Homo sapiens: one gene and its partners. The protein of the gene in region 3 purifies or fractionates together with the protein of the main gene of each other region. This does not show direct contact. Each region holds a gene or a part of one and is shown on either strand. Other genes may lie near its edges.

Region 1 (3,657 bases), on a different chromosome or scaffold from region 3:
AAGAAATGTTAGTGGAAAAACTGTCAGATCTAGATGTGAGTAATTAATCTTTTTAATTTAAGGGGACCTATGCAATAAGAATACAGACAATTGCTGTATTTAGGATCCTAATAGTAATGTTCCTCAGAGGCAGGTGTTCCTACGATGACTTTTCTTTCTTTCTTTAAAAACAAAACAAAACAAAACAAAAAAACAAAACACATTCATCATTGATTTCTGCCTTGGGAGGACCTTATTTGTGGTCAGGGAGGTGACTTGTCGAGTCTCCAAGTCCTCCTCTTGTAAGTGCCCTCATATCCTGTGCCAGTTGTTTTAGGGAAGCACGGCAGATGTTGTTTCATCTCCTTACGTAAGGCCAGTAGCTAATTTTACAAGCTGATGATAAGTGTAAGGAGTCATTATAGGTTAAGTAGAAAAGGGATGCAGCACATGGTTACCTTCATGCAGTTTACTGCTTACCTTGTGTGCCATATCTGTAAGGTCAGTGGTTTTTATCTTGGGATCTGCAAACCACCTCTGTCGGAATCCCTTGAAATGCTGGTTACAAACTACAGTGTCCTAAGCCTCACCCTAGATCTAGCTCAGAATCTCTAGGGAGTTACCGAGGAATCTTTTTAACCAACTTTCCAGGCGAATCTTATACCCTATAAAGTTTGTGACCCCCTGCTTTAGGTCTTAATTGCATTCTTATTTTGTTAAATGTTCTAATATATCAACATTTTCACAGGACAGTTGATGTCTTAAACATTTTGATGTTCCAAATTTATTACTTTCTGGAAGATTGGGGTGTAGATAAATTTCACAAATTTTTCCAAGATGGAGATTTTCTTTGATGGCGGTGGCTAACATTGTTAGTACTTTGCCACCATATATAGATTTTAAGTCATGTACTTGAATTGTTCTTTTTCTCATTTAATGTATTATAGAAATTAATGATTTGGAAAAGTTGCAGTTTGCTTAAACAAAGTGTCAGACAATTGGTTAGTGGTAGATCCAGAGTTAATTTCTAATATCCTAACTGCCAAGTACTGCTCTACTTGAATCTAACTGAAAAATCTCTTTGCTTCTTCACTGAACAAGTAATTTCATTATTTCCTCTGTTTCTGGCTGCTTTGATTTTTTTTTAATAATTCAGGTATTTTTTCTGCTTTGTAATATCCCACGGACTTTAATACAGGTGTACAGCTATGAAAACAAAAGAAACAAGTTATATATGATACTTTGTACTTTGGGGTACTGGATATCAGAAGAAATCCTAATGTTTATGGCTGGTATCAAGATGAGGGATGTGGAGGTGGTCAGTGACTTCTTGACCTAGTTCAGAAGCAAGGCTGAGTTCCACCCATAGTGCCCCTTTGTAGGTGCAGAAGTCATTGAGAGTCTGTGAGATGCAATCAAGAGAGTAGCTGAGCACAGAACGCCCAGGCCAGTGACTGGAGAGGAGCATGGAGCTCTGCCCACCCAATATCCTAGGTAGCTGAGTATTTCACCCTTACTAGAAGAGTGCCTTCTCTTTCATTACATCATAGGAAGCTGTAGTCAAAGTAGTTCTTTTAATATTAATCTTACTGGTGAGATTTTTAAAAATTTCAAACTATTAATGGCAGATTTTTACAATAAAGGCAGTAGTGACAAAGATGAGTGTGATGTTTAACGCCGACAAAAAACATAAATAAGGTTATAAAAAACTGAGTTTCACAATCCATATTAACTAAGAATCTCAAGCATTAGTTGTTTCCTTCTCCATAAACACTTTAGAGTGATTATTCTGGCTTCTAATTTTAAGGGGTTAATTCCAAGTTGTTTACTTTCTAATCACATGTTCAAGAACTATTAAAAAAAATGCACAGAGGAGCAAGGATAATTTATTTCAAGAGGTTGCCCTTTAAGTCAAGTATCTCTTGAATTTTTAAATAGCTTGATTGTTCGGTTTTAAAGGAAATCATAAACATTAAAGTAACACAGCTTGAACAGCCAAAGATATATTTGCCAAATGTATTATGAAATATAATTTAAGAGGTACATTTTCTCAAAATCAAACTCTTTCCATATTACTATACATAACTTACTTGAAATTATTTATAAAGCTCCCCTTGATACAGTTCTAATAAAAGAGAGCAAATTACACTTGAAGATCATCTAAATACTTTTTGAAAGTGAATTTAAATCTCAATTTCATAAACATAATACAGAGAAATTGATTTTTCTTTGAATGATAAATCTCTTTGTTTCTTGAAAGAAAAGATTTGGCACTAAAGATACGCAGGAAAAGTGATGCATCTGCATGCTGTTTTAAAAGCAGCGTGAAGATGCAGAAGTGTCATCCTGTCAAAATTCATCAGGAAAAGCAACATTGGAAAGATCAAGTATGCAAAAAATAGAAAAAATTTAGCAAATGCAATTACACTTGCACCTTCTAATGAATTTTTATTGTCTGCAGTATATGCAGTTCATTCGGCTGCTAGAAAAGTTATTGACATCGCAGTGTGGTGCTGCTGAGGAAGAATTTGTGCAGAGGTTTCGAAGAAGTGTAACTCTTGAATCAAAAAAACAGCTGATTGAACCTGTACAGTATGATGAGCAAGGAATGGCCTTTAGCAAAAGTGAAGGTAATGACATTCTGTGGAGAGAAAATAAATTCAGTGAAGGTTGAAAAACTACAATTATTTTTATTTGCTATTGCTTTCTGGTATCCATTAGATTTTTTATTTGTTTATTTTTGCTACCGTTACTTTGGATTTCCTAATTTTTAAGATTCTGTTGAAGTTTTTCAAAACTGAACTGTATAATATCCTAAGAAAAAAATGTGGATGCATACCTATACAGTCATATTAACACTTTTTCTTTTCACACATTTATATTGTTGAATCTTTTAATTTTCACATTTTAAGCTGCTAGAATCGGTAAAATATTTATAATAAAGTTTTCTTTGCAAAAAATGAAAATGCTCAATGAATCTGCATATCAAATGCCAAAACTATGTAATGTGAAAACTTCACGTCCTTAACTCACATTTTTCTTGTTCAGAGCCATTAGACGTAGTCCAACTTTTACGACTTGAACTATTAAAATATTTACAACTCTTAAAAGATTTCACGTCATTGTCATTTTTAACTACTGTGGTGTTTTCAAAGAAATGTGACCTTTCCTGAGTATTTTTTTATTTCTACTAGTTATATTTCATCATACTATTTATATATTTCTAAAACTTATGTTGTTAGATATATTCTTACTGTTTATAAAAGAAGAATGCTATGTAAATTGGTTGTGGATTCTCGTAAGGGAAATGAATATAAATTACTTTGTTGGTTGTTCAAACTAATTTAAAATCATTGTAGTGTTTCTAAAATGGAATTGAAGAACAAAATTACCCCACAATGAGCTTTATTGCATCTGTTGTGCTGTAGTTTACCTGCTTTATTTTTGTTTGACTTGAAATAATAGTTATAGGACTTGCTTATGTACAGTGTTGTGTATTATTTTGGGGAAACAAATTTTAATGTAGTTTTACCTGTCTCAAAGCGCAGGTCTTCAAGATATTTACTAATAGGAATTTTATATTTTTGAAGGTAAAAGAAAGACTGCAAAAGCAGAAGCAATTGTTTATAAACATGGAAGTGGAAGAATAAAAGTAAATGGAATTGATTACCAGCTTTA
Region 2 (2,310 bases), about 55 Mb from region 3:
GTTGGACACAACCCTGTGGGGTCACACGAGTGTGGTGTCACTCAGACTCTCTCAAAAAACACCCAGAACCTCATGGCTGCAGGTACACTCGACTCCAGGACGCCACCTTCCCGGGCAGGCCCTGCTCTCTGGGGCACAGGTGGTGGGGAGGAAGTGGGTGGGGCAGACCTCTGTCCGGGGCGCCCTCGGATCCTGCTGGTGCTGGCTCCCATCGGCTGTCCCCCCACGGGGGTGTAATTGATGTATCTCTGGCCGGGGCCCCGGGTACCCCCTCCTGAGCACCCCAGGTCCCCACCCGCCATGCGTTGCTAACGTCTCTGTCTTGGTGGAAGAGGCGGGTCCCGGGTGGGCGGTGTCCGGGAAGCCCCTCCACGCCCATGGTGCCTCTCCAGCGGGGCAGTTGTGCTGTGGATGTGGCTGGTCCCGGGGGTGGGATTCGGGGCTGGCAGGGGCACTGCTGCAGGCCCTGTGGTTATTGCCTGGTGGCCTGAGGCCCATCCCACGGGCCCCACACCCCACTGTGAAGACAGAGGAGAGAGGTGCGTCTGGAACCGGAGGAGTGGGCACAGATCAGAGGTCACGACGGGCCGGGTGGGCTTGGGTGTATGTTAACACCAAATAGGAGAAAAAAGAAAAAAATATCTGAGGCCGATGTGCATTTTCAACTCCCCCCTCCCCCAGAAGGTCACAGTGATCAAATGTGAGGGACAGGACGCGCAGGTCTGGCTGGGGACACCCCAGGGAAAGAGATGGAAACGGGGAAACGCAGCCTCCTCTGGTCCTGGTGGGAACAAGCAGCTCCTCTTGCCAGCTCCCCATCCTGTTTTCCCATCTGCAGGACAAGGGGGCCACCTCCGGCTCTTGGTTTTGGAGGGTACAGACAGAACAGGAGGGTGGAGAGAGAGCAGGGGAGGAAGAAAAGCCCCAGCCCTGCCTCGGGGTGGGCAGGGGCAGCGGAGGGGGGGGCGGTGGCCTCGGTTTCCCCAGCCGAGGTGTCGGAGGAAGGATGAGAGAAGAGGAGGAGGCCGAGGAGGGTGTCGGTGTTGGGGGAGGCAGCGGGGGTCAGTGGGGGTGGGCGGCGGGCAGGCGGGCGTTCCGGGCTCACATGAGGGTGCATTTGCCCTTGACGCGGTCTGTCCTCTTCTGCTTCCCGGAGCGCTTGCCGTCGATGTTGAGGCTCATGTTCCGGCGCGTCTCCAGCGTCAGCAGCTCCTGGAAGAGCTCCTTGACGTTGTAGTTCATCTTGGCCGAGGTCTCCATGAAAGCGCACTTCCACTCCTGGGCCACCGCCTGCGCCTCGCGCGTGTCCACCTCCCGCTGCGTCTCATCGCACTTGTTGCCCACGAGCATCACGGGGATGTCCTCCACGCTGCCCTTGATCTGCACGATGAGCTTGTAGATGGGCCCCAGCTCCTCCAGCGACTGCTTGCTGGTGACGGAGAACACCAGGATGAAGGCGTGGCCCTTGGAGATGGACAGGCGCTGCATGGCCGGGAACTGGTGGCTGCCGGTGGTGTCTGTGATCTGCAGCGTGCACACGCTCTTGTCGCAGCTGATCACCTGCCGGTAGGTGTCCTCGATGGTGGGGATGTAGGTGTCGCGGAACGTGCCCTTCACGAAGCGCAGCACCAGCGAGCTCTTGCCCACGCCGCCCGCCCCGAACACCACCACGCGGTAATCGTTACTCTGTTCCGGCATCTTCCCCGCGGCGGGTGGGCGGCCGGGGCCGGGAGGGCTGGTGCCAGCTGCAAGAACCCCAGACCGAGCCTGTGCAGAGAGGAGGGTCACACGTCAAAGGCCACCCAGGCTTGAGGGGACAGCCCCACGCCCCGGGGAGGGAGGAGGACATGGCGGCTTCTCAGAGGAGGTGGCTGCCGTGCCTCCTGCCTCCTGAAAAGGCCCATTTGCTTGTGGCTGACTTTGCAGTTCTGTCCCACAGGCGGGCGCACAGCCAACACCCTTTGCTTACTTCTCCCTAACAAAATCTGGGGCCTGAGCTTCCCCGGGGGACGCTGAGCTAGGAGAGGCGTGGGAGACGCCGGGATGCCCACGAAACTCCTTCCCCGGGTGTGGGTGTCCCTTCCAGGCTGTGCCAGCTTCCCCCTCTCTTCCCAGTGTGGCAGGGGCCCCTGGAAGCTAGCAGGCCTGGCTTCCACCTCTCGCTCCACACCTGCCTGGCTCTGAGACCTTGCCGAGCCATCATGCCACCCTGAGCCTGTTTGGTGGCTCAAACGGTGCCCGTCTCCAACAACCATGGGTCCCCTGCTCTTCCGCCAACCCAGAGATGGCCAATCCTCATGGAAGCCGCAC
Region 3 (3,657 bases):
CTTCATTTATTTTCTTTCAATTACAGCGTTTTTTTCTTTTTTTTTTTTTTTTTGAGACGGAGTTTCGCTCTTAGTCGCCCACGCTAGAGTGCAGTGGAGGGATCTCGGCTCACTGCAACCTCCGCCTCCCGGGTTCAAGCAATTCTCCTGCCTCAGCCGCAGCTGGGATTACAGGCGCCCACCGCCAGGCCCAGCTAATTTTTGTATTTTTAGTAGAGACAGGGTTTCGCCATCTTGGCCAGGCTGGTCTCGAACTCCTCACCTCAGGTGATCCGTCCATCTCGGCCTCCCAAAGTGCTGGGATTACAGGTGTGAGCCACCGTGCCCAGCCCAATTACAGCTCTTAAGGCTTGAATTTTTCCTGAGAAGCAGCTGGGGATAAGATTTACTGGAGGCCCAGCAGCACCGGACTAAGTGCCTAGGACATGGGACATGCACCAACTGAATCTGTACTTCCTGGGGGGGGGCTAAGTGGCAGACCAGCACTGGGCCACCAGTACTATTTTAGGTAACCATGCATGACACTTAAACATCTTAAACGTTACTTCATAAATTTCTAAAATTTCATTTTTGTATTCCTTAATCGAGGGATTTTCATGCCTTGGCCCCTAGGAAAACAACTGTTGGATTCTTCTACTCCACCCCACCCCTTTCTAATGTACTTACTTCTGCTTTAATCTTTATTATTAACCCATGAGGCCCCACACTCTGTTCTGTACACAGTTATCATAAAGCACCTTTTGCATGCTGTGGAACCAAGGACACCACAGTGAACAGAGAGACCACAAACCCAGAAACTGGTGAGGAAGTGATGGACTCATTCTGTGCACCTCAGTCCTCCAAATGTCAACCCATAGACTATCCCAAGACCTTTAGGGCAATCCTTACCACTGTCTATTGCAGGAAATTAGCTGCTCCACTTCATGGAGGAGAAAATGGAAGCTCTTAAGTTCACCACCAGGCAGAGGTGGAACTGGATTCTCATTCCACCCATCTCATTCCACAGACATGACTGACCCAACCCACTCATGTGGAGCTGCATAATCCCTATCAGCTGGAGCTCCAAATGGCTTTCAGTCCAGCAACTGAATGAGCCCGTAGCAATGTAGTCACCTCACCTACAACTGTCTGTCTAATGGGTTGTGAAACAAATTCACTGAGGCTCAAAGCAAGGGGTTTAATCAAGAGAGATTAACTTCTTGAGCCTGAGTTTCTTCACCCAAAGTGATGAGATACCAAAGTCCAGGCACAGCATGTGGTAAGGGCTTGATGGGAGCTGCTGCTTTCTCCCTCTTGACACTATTTTCTTCTCTCAGGATACTTCTACCTCTCTGCTGCTTCCCTTCCAGGGTGACAAACAGGCCTTAGGCAGCTGTCTTCCTCACAGTGCTGTTTGCCAGTGAATGCTGATTAGCCAGGTATACCAGTCCAAAATATAACGAAAAGCAATGATCTTTTTAGCAGCTTGTGGGGGAAAAGTCAGAAGAGTACTTACCCTCAGCTCCCCTAATCCCTGGGCACAGTACCCCATCACTTTTCCTCCTTGTCTGGAAAGCTCTCAGCTCTCCTGTTCTCTCTCATCATTCCCTCAGTGCCCCTAAGCTCCCTGTTGGATTACCTTCTGCATCTGTCTCCTCCAGTGTACCACTGAGGCTGCCAACTGGGACTTGTGGATCTCACACCCCTAAGTAGAGGATCTGCCAAAGGCTGCTGATCATCTTTACGTTACTCAGTTTTTGAATCAATGACAGTACCATCATTTCACGAAGGCTGCCCACAGTCCCAGGAAGCAAATGTACACCATACACAAAAGAAATATGCCTGGTGCGGTGACTCATGCCTGTAATCCCAGCACTTTGGGAGGCCGAGGTGGGCAGATCACAAGGTCAGGAGTTTGAGACCAGCCTGGCCAATATGGTGAAACCCCGTCTCTACTAAAAACACAAAAGTTAGCTAGGCGAGGTGGCGGGCACCTGTAGTCCCAGCTACCTGGGAGGCTGAGGCAGGAGAATCACTTGAACCCAGGAGGTGGAGGTTACAGTGAGCTAAGATCACACCACTGCACTCCAGCCTGGGCGACAGTGCAAGACTCCATCTCAGAAAGAAAAAAAAAAAAAAGAAATTCATGCTGGGATAGGCTAGGAACCCTGCCCAGGGTTGCAGAGTGGATGATCCGGTTTGGTTCTGTGTCCCTACCAAATCTCAGGTTGAAAAGTGATGCTGTGTTGGAGGTGGGGCCTGGTGAACCTTCAAGAATGGCTTAGCACCATCCTCCTGGTGGTTAAGTTAATCACACGAGATCTGGTTGTTTAAAAAAGTGTGGCCGGGCAGAATGGCTCACGCCTGTAATCCCAGCACCTTGGGAGGCTGAGGTAGGTGGTTCGCTTGAGCCCAGGAGTTCTAGACCGGCCTGGGCAACATGGCAAAACCCCATCTCCACAAAAAAAAAAAAAAAAAAAAATTAGCCAGGCGTAGCGGCATGTGCCTGTAGTCCTGGCTACTCAGGAAGCTGAGGTGGGAGAATCGCTTGAACTCAGGAAGTCGAGGCTGCAGTGGGTCATGATCGCACCACTGTACTACCGCCTAGGTGAGAGTGAGACCGTGTCTCCAAAAAAAAAAACAAAACAAACAAACAACAGTATGCGGCACCTTCTTCCTCTCTCTGGCTGCTGCTTTTCCCATGATGTGCCTGCTCCCTGCCTTCCACCATGAGTAAAAAGCTCCCTGAGGCCTCCCCAGAAGCCAACCAGATGCCAGTGCCACCCTTGTACAGCCTGCAGAACTGTGAGCCAATTAAATCTCTTATCTTCATAAATAACCCAGTCTCAGGTATTTACAGCAATTTAAGAACGGCCTAACATAGTGGGCAACAAAGGAGCCGGGTTCCAAACCCTGTTATTTCATGTCCTTGACGCTAAAGGGGTCTCCCACAGCCACCATCTTAGTTTTCCTAGAATATGGCCTTTCATCCAGAGATCCACATGTGCACCACCCTCCTGCCTGGTATAGTCTTCCCCAACATCTTCGCCTGGTTCACCTTCCCCAACATCTTCACCTGGTTCGCCTTTCCCATTCAGGTCTGAGCTCAAACGTCACCTCCTCAGAACCATCTTCCTACTTAGTTCTGAACTACTGCTGCCCACCCGTACCTCGCTTGTCCCCCACCAATGTATCCCATTGTTTCCTTCTCTTTCCAACACTCATTACCATCCCAAATATCTGATTCATTAATTTATCATGTCTATCACCCTATCTAGAGCAGTGCTGTCCAATGGAACTTTCTATAAATGAGATGTTCTAGATCTGTACTGTCCAACATAGTAGCATTAGCTGCAGGGCCAATGAGCAGTTGAAAGGTGCCCAGTGCAATTGAGGTACTGAATGGGCAACTTCATTTTTGTTGATCCAATCAGCCATGGAATGGATGTAGGCCCAATGAAAGCAGGTGTAAGACCTGCCCCACTCATCACTGTGATCCAGCCCTGGAACAGTACCTGGAATCCTGGCAAGTGCTCAAGTAATATTTGTTGATTCAACACAGCTTCTTTGCAACATGAAAGCACACATAGTTTGCACCCCACTTGCTTCTTCTCAGCCAAGCCCATGTCAGGGACTTGTATTTCTGGTCCCATGGTAAAATGGCCCCAGCAGCATTTC

Evidence for each region.
Region 1: the proteins of ZNF274 (region 3) and MRPS9 purify together in Homo sapiens (co-immunoprecipitation; one large-scale study listed by IntAct). This does not show direct contact.
Region 2: the proteins of ZNF274 (region 3) and DIRAS1 purify together in Homo sapiens (affinity purification with mass spectrometry; one large-scale study listed by BioGRID and IntAct). This does not show direct contact.

Annotation. Positions count from the first base shown.
Region 1 is NC_000002.12:105,089,961-105,093,617, forward strand, and holds part of MRPS9 (small ribosomal subunit protein uS9m), read left to right. Parts: coding exon 1-35; intron 36-2,440; coding exon 2,441-2,609; intron 2,610-3,569; coding exon 3,570-3,657.
Region 2 is NC_000019.10:2,716,109-2,718,418, forward strand, and holds part of DIRAS1 (GTP-binding protein Di-Ras1), read right to left. Parts: exon of another isoform or gene 2,204-2,310; coding exon of another isoform or gene 2,171-2,203; intron 1,768-2,170; coding exon of another isoform or gene 1,699-1,767; coding exon 1,102-1,698; 3' UTR 1-1,101. UniProt on the Homo sapiens protein: Displays low GTPase activity and exists predominantly in the GTP-bound form.
Region 3 is NC_000019.10:58,199,976-58,203,632, reverse strand, and holds part of ZNF274 (neurotrophin receptor-interacting factor homolog), read right to left. Parts: intron 1-3,657. UniProt on the Homo sapiens protein: Probable transcription repressor. Specifically binds to the 3'-end of zinc-finger coding genes and recruiting chromatin-modifying proteins such as SETDB1 and TRIM28/KAP1, leading to transcription repression.